4 separate regions of the Homo sapiens genome follow, and all the other regions are linked to region 3. Evidence: fine-mapped expression QTL. A gene starts in region 3. Each other region holds a variant in brackets. All regions are shown on one strand. Distances are from middle to middle. Region 1 has its middle 2.4 kb from the start of MIR5705. Region 2 overlaps HSD17B11 (hydroxysteroid 17-beta dehydrogenase 11). Region 3 holds the start of HSD17B11 (hydroxysteroid 17-beta dehydrogenase 11). Region 4 overlaps AFF1 (ALF transcription elongation factor 1).

Region 1 (4,267 bases), 93 kb after region 3:
TTATAACACTAACTTTGAATTTAGTGCAGCATTATGTGAACTGGGCTGTTCTGTACATGTGATAATTACAACGAATTTAACAGTTACCCTTGTGTTTATGTCTTCACAAATTACGTGAGAAACCGTAAGGGGGAAATGCCAATCCCTGTCCTAAGAGTGCTCTCACGCTTTCTACTATTTGCTTCCTCTTGTGTCTAAAAGTTTTCAGACAGCTCATGACCTTTTCTATTCAGCTCTTCAAATCTGCCAAGTGTTTTGCTGAAACCCCTTCTTTATCTGATTGGATGTATTACATCTGATCAAATTTGCCTGTCAGCTGCTTGCAGCAAGGGTGGAATTACAGGAAAGTTAAGTGGGAACTTACTTGTATTTAATGGGAATCTTTTATAGTAAAAGTAATCACAGTGAAATCAAAGCAAGTACATTCTGACTTGCCTAGGGTGCAATCATGTCTCATTCAAACTAACTTCACAAACCCAGTGAGCAGCTAGAGAATATTCATAAATTCACATCAAAACACTTATGAAAAGTGAAGTCATTTACCAATTGCACTCCAGTAATGATCCATTATCTCAATAGAGATCTTCTTACTTTTAAATGTGAGGCTAACTTGTATAAATTAAGACTTAAATATTCCCAAACAACACTGAAAACCAAATTGCCTGTTCCCATACCTAATTCCAATAACTAGGATTTTTCACTTTTTTTTTTTTCTTTTTGAGACAGAGTCTCACTTTGTCACCCAGGCTGGAGTGCAGTGGTGTGATCTTGGCTCACTGCAGCCTCCATTTCCCGGGTTCAAGGGATTCTCCAGCCTCAGCCTCCTGAGTACCTGGGTTTATAGGCATGCACCACTACATCCAGCTAATTTTTGTACTTTTAGTAGAGACAGGGTTTCACTATGTTGGCCAGACTGGTCTCGAACTCCTGGCCTCCAGTGATCAGCCCGCCTCGGCCTCCCAAAGTGCTGAGATTATGGGCGTGAGTCACTGCACCCAGCCCTGGATTTTTTGACTTTCTGTTTCTCAACACCTCTTTCCTTCTGATGGCTCTTTACTAATTAGTTCAGACTTCGTTCAATTAATTTGATGCATTTAGTTCTCTACTTCTCTTCCATTGTTCTCTTTCTCTTTTCAGCCTTCTCTTTCTAAGCTTCTCCCCACATTCTAATCTAGTCTGGAAACATAGCCTATTTTTCAGTCATCAAAACTATCCTGTATTACCTATGTAGCAGGAAAAAAAAAAAGACCACTTGATGTTGAATTCAATTTGGAATGATGTGATTTAAATATTTCAAACAATATTGCAGTTCCAGTGTACCTTGTTATCTAACAATATTGCACATTTGAGAGTATTATTTTCTATGCTGGTGAATTTAATGTAGAAATATTCAAGATAAACTACAACAACTCATAGACTTTTTCAAGCCAAAACAAGGCTTTTTCTACAATTCATTCAAGAAAAGATATTCACTCGGCAACTTTGATAGGAAATACATGATGCTAGAATGTAGAAAAATCAGAGAGGAAGATGTGATCCTTGCTTTAAAGATGTTTACAACAGATCAGCTAATCCAGCCTGTTTGTAAATAACAACTCACTCAAAGAAAAATAGGGTTAGTCCCTTTGAAAAGTTACTAACCAAGTGCTTTGTGAATAGACAGCATGATTAATTTGGGTGACAGGGCAAATCTTTGCTGAGGAGATGCAATTAAAGATATTAAAGAGGAGGAGGTGCAAGAATATGCCACAGGGAACAAACATGCATGTTGGTACAAAATGTTTTACAAGTTGTGCGTTTGTAGCATGGTAAGTCATCCAGGGTCAACATGGATCATGCACCTGGGAATCTGGGGGAATAACAGCTTGGAAAAGATGTTTGGGGCCCAACAGTACAGAGTTTCAAAAAACATGTTGACAGATTTGGATTTTATTGAGGCAAGCCATGCAAGAGTAGAGTACATAAAACCAACGAGATCAGATCTGTGGTTGAGAAAGACAAAACTAGCACTGAAGTGGAGGATAGAGCACAGAAGAAAATAGTAAGTTATAAAATAACCAAT[T/A]TATAAATAAAGATAAATATATGTATGCTATTAAATTTCACAATACAGGCATATATACAGTCACAATATAAAACCATGCAAAATTTCAAATTGCTATAAGTACATTTATCTGAGCCATGTATTTAATAGTTATGTATAGATTATCTATTATTGACCATGGAAAAAGTGAAGTTAACATATTATAGCTGGTATTTATTGATTACTTTCTACCCACCTTTATTTCAGAAAGGATTTCCAGTGCTTACAAGAGTATCTAAAATTATAAAGTGCACAAGTCTTGAGGCAATAAGAGAGTACAGCATAGTGATGAGTTCTCAGATTTTGAACTAAATATAAGGGGGGCAAGATACAATATTAAAATAACCATTGCATGTAAACAGAATTACCATATGATCCAGCAATTTCACTTCCGGGTATATACCCAAAGGAATTGAAAAGAAAACTCAAATAGATATTGGTACACCCACATTCATAGCAGCATTATTCACAGTAGCCAAAAAGTGGAAGTAACCCAAATATCCATCAATGGATGAATGGATAAACAAAATGTGGCATATACATACAGTAGAATACTATCCAGCTTTAAACAAGAGGAAAATTCTGACACCATGCTACAACATGGATGAACCTTGAGGACTTTATGCTAAGTGAAATGAGCTAGTCACAAAAGTACAAAGTATAAATAGTGTATGATCCCACTCATACGAGGTATCTAGAGTGATCAAATACACAGAGACAGAAAGTAGAATGGTAGTTTCAGGGGCTGAGGGGAATGGAGAATGGGGAGTTATTATTTAATGGGTACAGAGTGTCAGTTTAGGAAGTTGAAAAAGTTGTAGAGATGGATGGTGGTGATGGCTGCAAAATATGAATGTAGTTGATACTACTGAACTTTACACTTAAAAATAGTTAAAATGGTAAACTTTATATTATGTATATTTCACCATAATTTTTTTTTTCAAGACGCAATCCTTTTCTGTCACCCAAGCTGGATTTCAGTGGCACGATCTTGGCTCACTGCAACTTCTATCTCAGGGATTCAATGATTCTCTTGCCTCAGCCTCCCGAGTACCTGGGATTACAGGTGCCTGCCACCATGCCTGGCTAATTTTTTTTGTATTTTTAGTAGAGACAGGGTTTCACCATGTTGGCCAGGCTGGTCTCAAGGTCTCAAACTCCTGACATCAGGGGATCTGCCCATCTTGGCCTCCCAAAGTGCTGGGATTGCAGGCATAGTCACCATGCCTGGCCCATAATTTTTAAACGTTTAAATTTTATTTATTTATTTATTTATTTTAGATAGGGCCTTGCTCTTTTGCCAGGCTGGAGTGCAGTGGCTACATCACAGCTCACAGCAACCTCGACCTCCTAGGCTCAAGCAGTCCTTGCACCTCAGCCTCTTGAGTAGCTGGGACCACAGGTGCACACCACCAAGACCAGCTAATTTTTTGTATTTTTTTTGTAGAGATGAGATCTTGTCATGTTGCCCAGGCTGGTCTCTAACTCCTGGGCTCAAGCCGTCCTCCCATTGACCGTCCAAAGTGCTGGGATTACAGGCCTGAGCCACCAGGCCCTGCCAATGTTTAAATTTTTAAAAAGAACCATACCACCTAAGTTATTCTTAATCTTAATGGCTACATATAATTGTATTATATTCATCTATTGCATTATTTATGATTACATAATTGGTTTGTTTCTATCAACCTTTACTAAGCCCCTTGTACATCTCCAGAGCGATGCTAGGCGGAAACTGGTGATATAAAAAGAATCTTTAAAGGTCCAATGAGAATAGAAATTATATGCTCCATTAATCAATATGATATAAAAGGGATTTAATCCTTTCAAACATTGGCAAACACATATAGAGGGCTTATTATTCTCTGATACACTTTCCTACAAACCTTACATCCATTTACTCATTTAATCATCACAAAAAATCCTGTGAGGTAGGGATTTCAACTGGCTACAATTTAAAGATAAGCAACTGTAAAGTGTCAATACCTTGTCATCCAAGGCCACACAGCCAAGGAATAAATGGTGGAGTTGTCAGTTCAGCTACAGTATCCATGGTCTTAATCATCAGCTAGAAGGCCTCTCATGTGAGGAGGTTGTATTTTTCAGTTCCTCCCAGTTTTTCTCTGACTTCTTTGGCTGATTTTCTCGGTCTCTTTTTTAGAGCTCTCTTGCTTCTCCTGCTCCTTGGAT
Region 2 (4,267 bases), 26 kb after region 3:
ACACATTATGGTAAGACTGATTTGCTTTATTATACTTGGTCTGATTATTTGTATAAAGTGCAGCGAGAATAATTATTTTTCACACAGGCTTTTTAATTGGCTTTGATGGAACTCTGTTTTATAAGGAATCTCAGGTAAGACTTTTTTAAAGCTAAGCCCTGCCATGGGTTTGTACCCTTAAATACCTATGAGTTGGGTAAAACACTTTTCTTTTGAGGTCCCAAGTTAACTTGGGCCTCCTGGACCTGTAAGAAAGTGACATTCTTTACTTACCATAGGTCAGAAACCCTGTACAGGGACTGTGTAGGCAAAGTATGAGGCCAGTTTCCCATAGGGCTTTTATTGGCTTTACAAGTCAAGTTTGATTCTTTAAAGGAAAGCACACCATTCCAGTCAAAGCCTTGGTAAAATAACCAATTTCTCCAATAGTGTCCCATTACAAAAGAAAACAGATTTTTGTTGCACTTATACAAACAACTATATTGCCATAAGTTAAGAATACTTACAATTGGTTTCCATTCCGGAGAAATCAGGTAGAGAGAAACAAATATGTTTCAAATTTTGTTCATAGGAGTATATTTTACTTAATTGCTGCAAGCTGTAAATAGCTTAAAAGAAGTTTCCTTTGAAAAATAAAAGATCAGCAATATTTTAAGCAAAGTTAAAAAAAATTACTTCAGTTTTCTATTGGTTCAGTTAATTCAGTTAACTCCTGTTCTACTTGTTATTCATGAACATTCCAGCTTTTTATGAGAGTTTCGAAAGTTGTTTTCTTTATTTTAATGTTACAATTTCTAAAGTTATTAGCAACCTGCATTTAAGAACATCTGCTAGAATTCTATAGTTGATTATAAACCACCTTTTAAAGAAGATTAAAACAAGACAACAACTGTCTGTGGATGATAAAAACTTTAGGACAGCCACTATTAAAGCCACAATTGATAAGGAAATTTGGTTACTTTTGTGGCATACAAAATTTTACATAACAATTATAATTATTAGTAACATACACTAAGTCATATTAGAAATAAAGGAGTTTCTTATAACTTTGGAACATATACCAATAACATATTTATACAAATATAGTCCAAAGAAAGCAAAACACTGTTTCACATTTGAGAATGCTTCCTGGATGATTTTTATACCAAATAAGCGAAATTTCACCTTTACATTAATGTATTATTAATGTTAAACCCAATTTTTAATAAAACCTTAGAGACATATTTACCCAATTTTAATGTTTAATCCTAAGGTAAGATTTTATAAACCTTTATAACCCTTTACATTTTTTTGTGAAAGCGCAGATAAGTCCTCTAAGAGAAACCTGTTGTGCTTTTATTCCAATGTTTAATTTATGGAAAAACTGAATAATACCCCTTTAACTTTAGCTAATATGTTCATACACAGAATCTCTTACAATTAATTTTTATAAACCTTCCACAAAGGCCAGGTGCAGTGGCTCACACCTGTATATCCCAACACTTTGGGAGGCCAAGATGGGTGGATCACCTGAGGTCGGAAGTTCAAGACCAGCCTGATCAACATGGAGAAACCCTGTCTCTACTAAAAATACAAAATTAGCCAGGCATGGTGGCACATGCCTGTAATCCCAGCTACCTGGGAGGCTGAGACAGAAGAATTGCTTGAACCCGGGAAGCAGAGGTTGCGGTGAGTCAAGATCACGCCATTGCACTCCAGCCTGGGCAACAAGAACAAAACTCCATCTAAAAAAAACCTTCCACAACTTCTTTAAATCTTTTTTTTTTTTTCACTTAACACAATCCTTTAACACTTTAATCTAGGCAGAAAATAATCCGCATTCCCATGCTTCTTCTTACAATTTTTTTTTTAACCAAAAACACATTTCACCTTTTTTATACACCTTGCATGTAAAACTGTTTCTTCAGTAGTCTTAATTACACATTACAATGCTAACTTCTAGCAACTTTTATTTTTGATGAAAACGTTGGTTAAGTAAGGGATTTTAATTATGTACTAGGTGTGGAGACTAGTCTAGGACACACCAGGCAGAAGTGCAGATAAGGGCTGACTCTCCAGCATAGCCAGGGGCATGAGGCCTTATCTAGAATCTGATGGCTTTAAAGTAGGTAAATAGAACAGTTTTCAAAAGTTAAAGAAACAGTTTGTCCTTAAAGCATTTAGCAAATCTGATATCTGACCTTAATTTAGACCAAATGTCTACATTTTTAAGACATTTTATTTTACCAATAAACTTTAAAACTGTCTTTATTTTCAAAAGATTACTAAAGTCACACGAACAAAAAGGCATTAGTTTCTATTTTTCTGAAAAAATATTTACGCACTTACTTTTCTAAGTCAATTGATTAGAGCTTTGTAATATATAAACATACACTATAAATAGAAGATTCAGCACTTATACAGTTTTTCGTTTGCCAGTTTCTTTTTTTTTGAGACAAAGTTT[C/T]GCTCTTGTCACCCAGGCTGGAGTGCAGTGGCATGATCTTGGCTCACTGCAACCTCTGCCTCCCAGGTTCAAGTGATTCTCATGCCTCAGCCTCCCGCGTAGCTGGGATTACAGGCGCCCACCACCACACCCAGCTAATTTTTGTATTTTTACTAGAGACGGGTTTTCCCCATGTTGGCCAGGCTGGTCTTGAACTCCTGACCTCAAGTGATCCGCCCACCTCAGCCTCCCAAAGTGCTGGGATTACAGGCATGAGCCACCTCGCCCCACCATTTGCCAGTTTCTTAATTGGATGACAGGTTTCAGAGTGGAGCCCTTGGAGGAACAGAGCTGGGACAGCATGCATTTCTAGGGCTAAATAAGTAGCAAATAAGCAGCTGAAGGCAGACAGATCTCCAAAATTAAAGGTGGTATTTTATACTGGATCCTGGATCCCCAAAAGGAGGGAAATACTACGGGAGAAGACAATGCAGTGCTTTTACCGACTGTGCATTTCATTGCAAGGCAACCTAAAGCCAATCAGCCCATTTTGTAATCAGCCCATCCTCATGAGAGTCTCATCTCCCAGTGAGGGGTGAGGATGTTGCCTTATCTTCCAGGTGGCCTAGAGCATGCTTCTCTGATCCAAGTGTGCAGAGTCAAGTATCCCTCCATAACTACTATTAGCCACCCCTTAAAGTACATTTCCTACCTAGTTGTTACACACCAAAGCTCTCTCATAATGCAAAGTAATTGCTGATAACCCCCCTCCCCCAAACTCAAAACCGTCAGATAACACAATGCAAAACAGAACAGAGCCTTTGATTTTGAGAGGAATCTATCTGCTTTTAATTCTTGGGGTCTCATGAGGAAAACAGAGGGGTTTTTTTTCTTTTTTTTTTTTTTTTCCCAAAACTGGATCTGTGGTGCTGCCTTTGTTTTTCCCAAGTAGTCCCAAGCTACCAGAAGTTATCTACGGGCCTTTCATGTGAGCATTAATAGTAACAAGACAAAACAAAACAAAACAAAACAAAAAAACAAAAATAATTCACTTGACTGAGAAGAAAAAACCTTTTTCCAGCAAAACAAGCTTCAAGAAGAGAAAAACATAAAGGCCTTTTAAATATATTTATAGCTTATTCCACTTTTAATTAAGCTGACTTTTCACCATAGTGCTCTTTAAAGAAGAAATCCTTTCAGAGCTCTTATTACCCGACTTTAGCCATGCCAAGCGGCCAATATTTCCAGCTTCTGAACTTTACCAAAGGTAAACTCCTAGGTGCTTAGAAGAAGGAAAATTGAAGACAGTCCATGGAGGAGAAGAGAATAGACACATATATTAAATCAGTAATGACTTATTTCCTGGGTGGGGAATTGAACCTAGACTGCCACTGTGAAAGTGCAAAACCTTAGCTACTGAGCTACAGGTCTGGGCAGTGTCTATTTCTTTTCTCAGAAGTAGTCTAGATTAGTTAATTTTGAGCTTGCAAAGGCTTTTAACTATTTAATATGATTTTCAGAGCTGGCTATGACATGAACTTTAAAATTCTTGTTCCCTGGAAGACAGAGCCCAAGAGAAGGTACTGCCATGCGGTTAAAAGGTCAAGCTCCCAAGCACATAAAACAAGGTGGAGACTTCATCGGGTTTTTTGTTTGTTTCAGGGACCTGCAACCAAGTTTGTTACTGACCAGCTTGCTGGGTAGTCTTGAAAAGCGGGCTTACAGGTGTTCTAAGCCCATGTTTTATCCTGAAGTACCCCTCTACACGGAAAAACGAATTCATAGCACAAAATACACCAGCTTAAGACTAGCCTTAGAATTCTTTTTCGCATTAATTAAGTCTTT
Region 3 (4,000 bases):
ACCATCATTCACAAGACCATTCACATCACTCACATTCTATTGGTGTTAATTATAATTTACATAAAGTTGAATAGTTGATAAAGCAATGTGCTTTCTATTAACTCGTTTGAACGTCACAAGAATCCTGTAGGGTAAGTATTATTTCAATTTTACAAATTTAGAAACATGTTTAGAGAGATGAAGTCACATACACATAAGGGATTCAGGTACGACTGCGTCCAAATGCTGTGTTCTTTCCCTTAACCAATGAAACCTTGATCAACTGTAGGTTAAAACTACCCAGTTTTTTTTAATTAATAGAATGGAATAAGAAATAGCATAGCCAGACCGTGTGCCATGGCTCACGCCTGTAATCCCAGCACTTGGGAAGACCAAGGTGGGTGGAACAGGAGATCGAGATTGAGACCATCCTAGCCAACATGGGGAAACCCTGTCTACTAAAAATACAAAAATTAGCTGGGTGTGGTGGTGCGTGCCTGTAGTCCCAGCTACTTGGGAGGCTGAGGCAGGAGAATCGCTTGAACCTGGGAGGTGGAGGTTGAGGTTGCTGTGAGCCAAGATTTCGCCACTGCACTCCAGCCTGGAGACAGAGGGAGACTCCTTTAAAAAAAAAAAAAATAGCATAGCTAGAGCCTCAATATATGAAACTCAACATAGTTGAAACACTTCTTATAGTAGATCACCATGTCAGATGTAATTTATTCCTGTAGGTGTTGGACCAAAAAATTGACAAACACTGAACATATGTGTAGCCCCAGTTACACTTTTACTCACTGTGTAGATTTTAAAGTTGATCTAACAGATTTATTCATTTACAGTATAGGTATAAATATATCCTGACTCTACTTTTCTCTATTTCCTAGGAGGCTTTTGAAAATCAAATGAAATAATATATGTGGAAGAACACTTTGTAAACTTTCTATACAAGTGTTTTGTAAATTTGGATTTGGAGGCTATCCAAAAAAAAGTTGTAGATATTCTGAATTCAAAGAATTCTATAATGGGGTTCACTTTTGTGAGGCTGCCACTATCCCTTCATCCCCTATAACAACGTATGGCTGCTTAAGTAAGAGGGACAATCGAGTTTGAACTATTTGTGAACTTTGATTTTTTTGTGTGATCTTTCTGGCTCTTAAATATGAAAGTTGACTATTGTCACACAACAAAGTCCCTTCCCAAGCACTGGAGTGTCTTGCGCAAAACCCAAATCCAATGTCTGTCAAAAATGAGTTGGAAAAAAATGCATGCAATACCATTATTAAGCTCTTACTGGACACAAGCCCTAGTTAGGTCTTTTCTTCCAGTAACCAATCTCTAGAATTTTTTCAAGTCACTAGTTAGCATATACTGAATACCCATTTATATAGGCTACAAAACCAAATGTTACATAGGTAATCTTTAGGCTAAATGATTTGCTATTTATTCACTTGAATAAAGATAAAATTCCTAAAGTACAACATATATTTTTTATTTTCAAACTCTAATAGGTCAAGTGAAAAATGATTATTCAAATATACTCTTCTTTCTTGTGGAAACAATCCCTTTAATACGATAACAATTTTTTCTGGCGCTTGATTGAAGCTGTCCTTGAACAGACAAAATTTCCCCTGTCTTCCAGAAATCGTGCTTAGTTCAAACTAAAATGTGATGTAGCGCAATTTCTCAGCTGGAAGCAGAACGATTGGTCTTTTCAGGATCCTTTAAGATAGGAATCTACATTTGCATCCTCTATCTAGTTTTTGTTTTTTAGGACAAAGTCTGGCCTTTTCGTCCAGGCTGGAGTGCAGTGGCGCGATCTTCACTCACTGTAGCCTCCACCTCCTGGACTCAAGCAATTCCCGTGCCTCAGTCTCTCGAGTAGCTGGAACTACAGGCACACGCCACTACGCCTGGCTAATTAAAAAAAAAAAAAAAGAGACCGGGGGTCTCCCTATGTTGTTCAGGCTGATCTCGAACTCCTGGGGTCAAGCGATCCTCCCGCCAGGGCTTCTCAAAGTGCCAGGATCACAGGCGAGAGCCGCCGCGCCCAGCGGCACCCCCTATCTAGTGATAAGCAACCTTCAACTATGAAAGAAGCATCTGGCCTGTGGACACTGTCGGTTATCCTTGGAACTTATCCAATTTAGGAAAACAAGTGAGCAACTAACCCTCCAAGGCCGGCTCACGACACCGGGAGAAAGTGGTGTAAAAGACAATCGCGGCCACACACCGCGTGGGGGCTGCGCAAAGCAGAACTAGGAAGCTTTGCTCCGGTCTGGACTTCGTCCCTCCCAGATCTCTGAGCTAGCAAGCACTGCAGCCCGAGCCAATTGCGAAAGACCAACAAAGCCCAGCCCAGCGGAAGGAACGGTTTCGGAGTTGTTTTTCTTTGATACGGGAGTTCCTCCTTGCTCTCGCCCCTACTCTTTCTGGTGTTAGATCGAGCTACCCTCTAAAAGCAGTTTAGAGTGGTAAAAAAAAAAAAAAACACACCAAACGCTCGCAGCCACAAAAGGGATGAAATTTCTTCTGGACATCCTCCTGCTTCTCCCGTTACTGATCGTCTGCTCCCTAGAGTCCTTCGTGAAGCTTTTTATTCCTAAGAGGAGAAAATCAGTCACCGGCGAAATCGTGCTGATTACAGGAGCTGGGCATGGAATTGGGAGACTGACTGCCTATGAATTTGCTAAACTTAAAAGCAAGCTGGTTCTCTGGGATATAAATAAGGTAACAGTGTTTACTATGTTTTACTTTCTGGTACCTTTAATTTGTGGATGTGTCTGCATTTTGCTGGCAACCACCCTTTACCTCATCTCTGCAAAGCAGGGAGGAAAAAAAAATTAGTATTGCCATTTTGCAGATGGGAGGGCATGAATTAATATGTTGTATGATCACATGATAAACAGACCTAGAGGTTATAATAGTCCCAGTTACTGCCCCATTTGTAAATTGATCCCCATTTTTGCCCTAAGGATAACTCATAATTTTTTCCTGAACCTGATTTCATTGATCCCTCTATTTTAAAAATAGGGAAAAAACAATCGTTTTAGCTATATATTAAAAGAGTAAGAAGCTTGTACCTATTAAGAGAAAGTCCTACTTACTGTTAATGAGAAAAGTGGTTTGAAAGATTATACTCGCCGTTGGCTCACGCCTGTAATCCCAGCACTTTGGGAGTCCAAGGCAGGCGGATCGCGAGGTCAGGAGATCGAGACCATCCTAACACACTGAAACCCCGTCTCTACTAAAAATACCAAAAAAAAATTAGCCGGGCGTGGTGGCGGGCGTCTGTAGTCCCAGCTATTGGGGAGGCTGAGGCAGGAGAATGGCGGGAACCCCGCGGGGCGGAGGTTGCAGTGAGCCAAGATGGCGCCACTGCACTTCAGCCTGGGCGACAGAGCTAGACTCCGTCTCAAAAAACAAACAAAAAGATTATACTCAACAGAAACCAATGCTACATTGCCATAGTTATTGCCAAGAGTAATTTTAAAAAGCATCTTTTCCGGGAGGCTGAGGTGGGGGGTTGCTTGAGCCTGGGAGGTGGAGACTGCAGTGAGCTGTAAACGCCCCACTGCACTCCAGCCTGGGTGACAGAGTGAGACCCTGTCTCAAATTTTTTTAAAAAACATTTTTTACCACGTTTGACCTGTGATACTGAAGGAGTGGCGGGAAAGCATCTTTTAGTAAAAACAATAAAAGGGAAAAAAACTTTCAGTGTAATTTTTTACCTAGGACAAGTGTAGGTGTGGCTTAGGGAGGAGAAGAGGACCTAGAATCCAACCTTTTATTTGACCTTTGGTAGATGAACAAAGGGGTTTCTAGAAGATACCTGATGGCCTGAAACATTATCCATTACACACTAGTTGACATGCAATGCTGTAAACAATAATTCAAAGGATGTGAAGTTAAATGAGGGTTAACCCAGTGAGTGGCTGATGAAGACAGCAATCAACAAATAATGACTGTCTGCTGCTTAGACATTAGGGATAGGGTGACAAACAGAAAATAAGGTTCCATGACC
Region 4 (4,000 bases), 400 kb after region 3:
TCATTCATGAGGGCAGATCCTTCACGATCCAATCACCTCTTAAAGGCTCCACCTTTTAATACTGCCACATCGGGTTTAAGTTTCAACATAAATATTTGTGGGTTTTTTTGTTTGTTTGTTTGTTTTAATTGATCATTCTTGGGTGTTTCTCACAGAGGGGGATTTGGCAGGGTCACAGGACAATAGTGGAGGGAAGGTCAGCAGATAAACAAGTGAACAAAGGTCTCTGGTTTTCCTAGGCAGAGGACCCTGCGGCCTTCCGCAGTGTTTGTGTCCCTGGGTACTTGAGATTAGGGAGTGGTGATGACTCTTAACGAGCATGCTGCCTTCAAGCATCTGTTTAACAAAGCACATCTTGCACCGCCCTTAATCCATTCAACCCTGAGTGGATACAGCACATGTTTCAGAGAGCACAGGGTTGGGGGTAAGGTCACAGATCAACAGGATCCCAAGGCAGAAGAATTTTTCTTAGTACAGAACAAAATGAAAAGTCTCCCATGTCTACCTCTTTCTACACAGACACAGCAACCATCCGATTTCTCAATCTTTTCCCCACCTTTCCCCCCTTTCTATTCCACAAAACCGCCATTGTCATCATGGCCCGTTCTCAATGAGCTGTTGGGTACACCTCCCAGACGGGGTGGTGGCCAGGCAGAGGGGCTCCTCACTTCCCAGTAGGGGCGGCCGGGCAGAGGTGCCCCTCACCTCCCGGACAGGGCGGCTGGCCGGGCGGGGGCCTGACCCCCCCACCTCCCTCCCAGACGAGGTGGCTGCCGGGCAGAGACGCTCCTCACTTCCCAGACGGGGTGGCTGCTGGGCGGAGGGGCTCCTCACTTCTCAGACGGGGCGGCTGCCGGGCGGAGGGGCTCCTCACTTCTCAGACGGGGCGGCCGGGCAGAGACGCTCCTCACATCCCGGACGGGGCGGCAGGGCAGAGGTGCTCCCCACATCTCAGACGATGGGCGGCCGGGCAGAGACGCTCCTCACTTCCCAGATGGGATGGCGGCCAGGCAGAGACGCTCCTCACTTTCCAGACTGGGCAGCCAGGCAGAAGGGCTCCTCACATCCCAGACGATGGGCGGCCTGGCAGAGACGCTCCTCACTTCCCAGACGGGGTGGCGGCCGGGCAGAGGCTGCAATCTCGGCACTTTGGGAGGCCAAGGCAGGCTGCTGGGAGGTGGAGGTTGTAGCGAGCCGAGATCACACCACTGCACTCCAGCCTGGGCACCATTGAGCACTGAGTGAAGGAGACTCCGTCTGCAATCCCGGCACCTCGGGAGGCCGAGGCTGGCGGATCACTCGAGGTTAGGAGCTGGAGACCAGCCCGGCCAACACAGCGAAACCCCGTCTCCACCAAAAAAATACGAAAACCAGTCAGGCGTGGCGGCGCGCGCCTGCAATCGCAGGCACTCGGCAGGCTGAGGCAGGAGAATCAGGCAGGGAGGTTGCAGTGAGCCGAGATGGCAGCAGTACCGTCCAGCTTCGGCTCGGCATCAGAGGGAGACCGTGGAAAGAGAGGGAGAGGGAGACCGTGGGGAGAGGGGGAGGGAGGGAGAGGGGGAGGGAGAGGGGGAGGGGGAAG[G/A]GGGTAGATTTTTCTAACTGCCTGTTTGTTTTTTGAGAAAAGGTCTCATTCTGTTGCCCAGGCTGAAGTGCAGTGCTGCAATTTCAGTTGACTGCAGCCTCGGTCTCCAGGGCTCAAGCAATCCTCCTACCTCAGCCTCCTGAGTAGCTGGGGCTACAGGCACACAACACCACACCTGGCTAATTTTTTGTAAAGACTAGGTTTTACCATGTTGCCTAGGCTGATCTCAAACTCCTGGACTCAGGTGATCCACCTGCCTTGGCCTCCCGAAGTGCTGAGATTACAAAGTGTGAGCCACCATGCCTGGCCTGGAGACAGTTTCTTACAGGATATCTAACACCCTTCCCAATTTGGACCAACTTCAGTAGCCTTATCATCCACCAAACCTCTCTCTGTCCCCTCCCCGCTTTCCCATGAACACCCTCCAGCCCCACAGTTCTCTAATGCCACCAACCTTTGCAGACAGTATTTTCTCTTCATTAGAATGCCCCTTTCCCTCTGCTCCAGCTGAAGACCCCTTACCATTATCTAAACTCTAACAAATGCAGCTCTTCTCAGAAGCCTTCTCTGATAGCTTATCCTTCACTCTACCTAACACAAGCTCCTAGTTCTCATGCATATCAAGTCATGATGCTGGATGGATCAAGGGGAGTGTTTGCTTGTTTGAGCAGAAAGGCAGCCAAAACCAATGCAGCCAAAAGATAATTTCTGAAGCAGAGAACTGTGAAGAACTCTGCTACAGTTGCAGCTGCTAAGATTTCCTTTTACACATGTGTTTGCAGGTGAGATCTGCCCCCAGATTGCATAATCTGGGGTTCTCTCATTACACAATCAGTGGACTCTGATCCAGATCCACAAATGGAGCAAGTGAGGATCAATGAACAATTTCCAACATTTCAAAAAATCCAAAGGAAACCACATATTTGACCATGAGAAGTGTGTGAAGGACTCCGCTCTGGGCCTTCCTGGAGCTTATGCCAACTCAGTGTGCCAGCACCAGTGAGCCCACAGTGATCAGGAAGTCGAATTAGCAACTTCGTGTGTTTTGATTAATTCAAGTAAGAAAACAAATGTTTGTTTAAATATAGTTTATTTAGTAGGGGGACTCTTTTTTAGTGCCTTCTGGCAATTTAGTGTGCAGTTGAGTTAGAACCTGTGTTTTAGTGCCTTGTTACTTAAAGTAAGGCTGCAGAGCAGCAGCTCTAACATGAGAGGCCTATAAGAAATGCAGTTTTAGGTCCCATCCCAGATTTCCTGAATCAGAATCTGCATTTTTATATTTTTAATGTATTATTATTTTTTAAGACGGAGTCTCGCTCTGTCTCCCAGGCTGGAGTGAAATGGCACGATCTCAGCTCACTGCAAACCTCCACCTCCTGGGTTCACATGATTCTCCTGCCTTAGCCTCCCGAGTAGCTGGAATTACAGGCACACATTACCATGCCCAGCTAATTTTTTGTATTTTTAGTAGAGATGGGGTTTCACTATGTTGGCCAGGCTGGTCTCGAACTCCTGACCTCATAATCCACCCACCTCAGCCTCCCAAAATGCTGGGATTACAGGCATGAGCCACCATGCCCAGCCCAGAATCTGCATTTTAACAAAATTCAAAGGTGATTCATATACTCATTGAACTCTGAGAAGCACAGTACTATAAAATCTATGACATTTAGGAGTTCCATAAACTCTCAAAGACAAGTGTCCACAATTACTACCATTATTCAGTTTGAAACAGTCTCTGAACAGTATTGTGGCATAGTCATCTATGAGTTATGGGCTTTTCCTGCCCTTGAAACTATCCCTAAATTTTCCTGAACACATATCAGGAAAGGGGAAGGATTTAAGAACTGGAAGATAGGAGATATTCCTCAATCTCTGCAGGGATGTTTTCCTCATTTGTGGGAGAAAAAAACTACATATATAGGCAAGCCACAATGATCAGTAAATTGCAGCTTATTAGTTATACTAAGATCTGGTCTCCTCACACATAAAAGAGGTTACATCAACTACTGGCACTTTCTGTGATACCTAGCCTGTCGTAAATGTGCTGTTTTTATTCCTAGCAAATGTTTGAATCCAAGCAAAACCTAATTGGAGGTATGGATTTTACCTTCCATCTGAGGACTGAGGCTGCCTTCCAAAAAGTTAGGGGAGTTTTATTTGAGGCTTCTTGGCTGTGGACTCTGTTTCCTACCTAGGTCACATGTAAAACAGGAAGATTAAAACTAAATCAAATCAACATTTATTGAGCATTTATTACGTCTAAAGCTCATGCAACCCTATAGGAAAGCATGTTTTTTAAAAAATCTTTGTCTTCTAAGAACTTACTCACTCAAAGAAAGGGCTACTCCATTTTCTAAATCCTACATGTCTTGAAATTACAATTAATCTAGAGAACAAAAAGCTGATTAATAACCA

Evidence for each region. PIP is the estimated chance that this variant, and not a neighbour inherited with it, causes the effect.
Region 1: its variant is fine-mapped to the expression of HSD17B11 in whole blood (TOPMed, PIP above 0.99). The same link has a PIP of 0.9 or more in breast, caudate, esophagus muscle, gastroesophageal junction, hippocampus and ovary.
Region 2: its variant is fine-mapped to the expression of HSD17B11 in whole blood (TOPMed, PIP above 0.99).
Region 4: its variant is fine-mapped to the expression of HSD17B11 in whole blood (TOPMed, PIP 0.97).

What each region holds. Positions count from the first base shown.
Region 1 is chr4:87,296,081-87,300,347 of GRCh38, reverse strand. No RefSeq gene overlaps it. Among named protein-coding and RNA genes, the nearest start is that of MIR5705, 2.4 kb to the left of the region's middle. The variant T/A (reference allele first, on the strand shown) is at 2,063.
Region 2 is chr4:87,363,334-87,367,600 of GRCh38, reverse strand. All of the region lies in intron 4 of HSD17B11 (hydroxysteroid 17-beta dehydrogenase 11), which reads left to right. Among named protein-coding and RNA genes, the nearest start is that of HSD17B11, 26 kb to the left of the region's middle. The variant C/T (reference allele first, on the strand shown) is at 2,444.
Region 3 is chr4:87,389,567-87,393,566 of GRCh38, reverse strand. It overlaps HSD17B11 (hydroxysteroid 17-beta dehydrogenase 11), which reads left to right and starts at 2,379. Exons shown (of 7, transcript NM_016245.5): 1 at 2,379-2,706. The coding sequence starts at 2,497. RefSeq lists enhancers at 1,512-2,084, 2,098-2,167.
Region 4 is chr4:86,992,849-86,996,848 of GRCh38, reverse strand. The region is part of intron 2 of AFF1 (ALF transcription elongation factor 1); the gene reads right to left. Among named protein-coding and RNA genes, the nearest start is that of AFF1, 60 kb to the right of the region's middle. The variant G/A (reference allele first, on the strand shown) is at 1,583.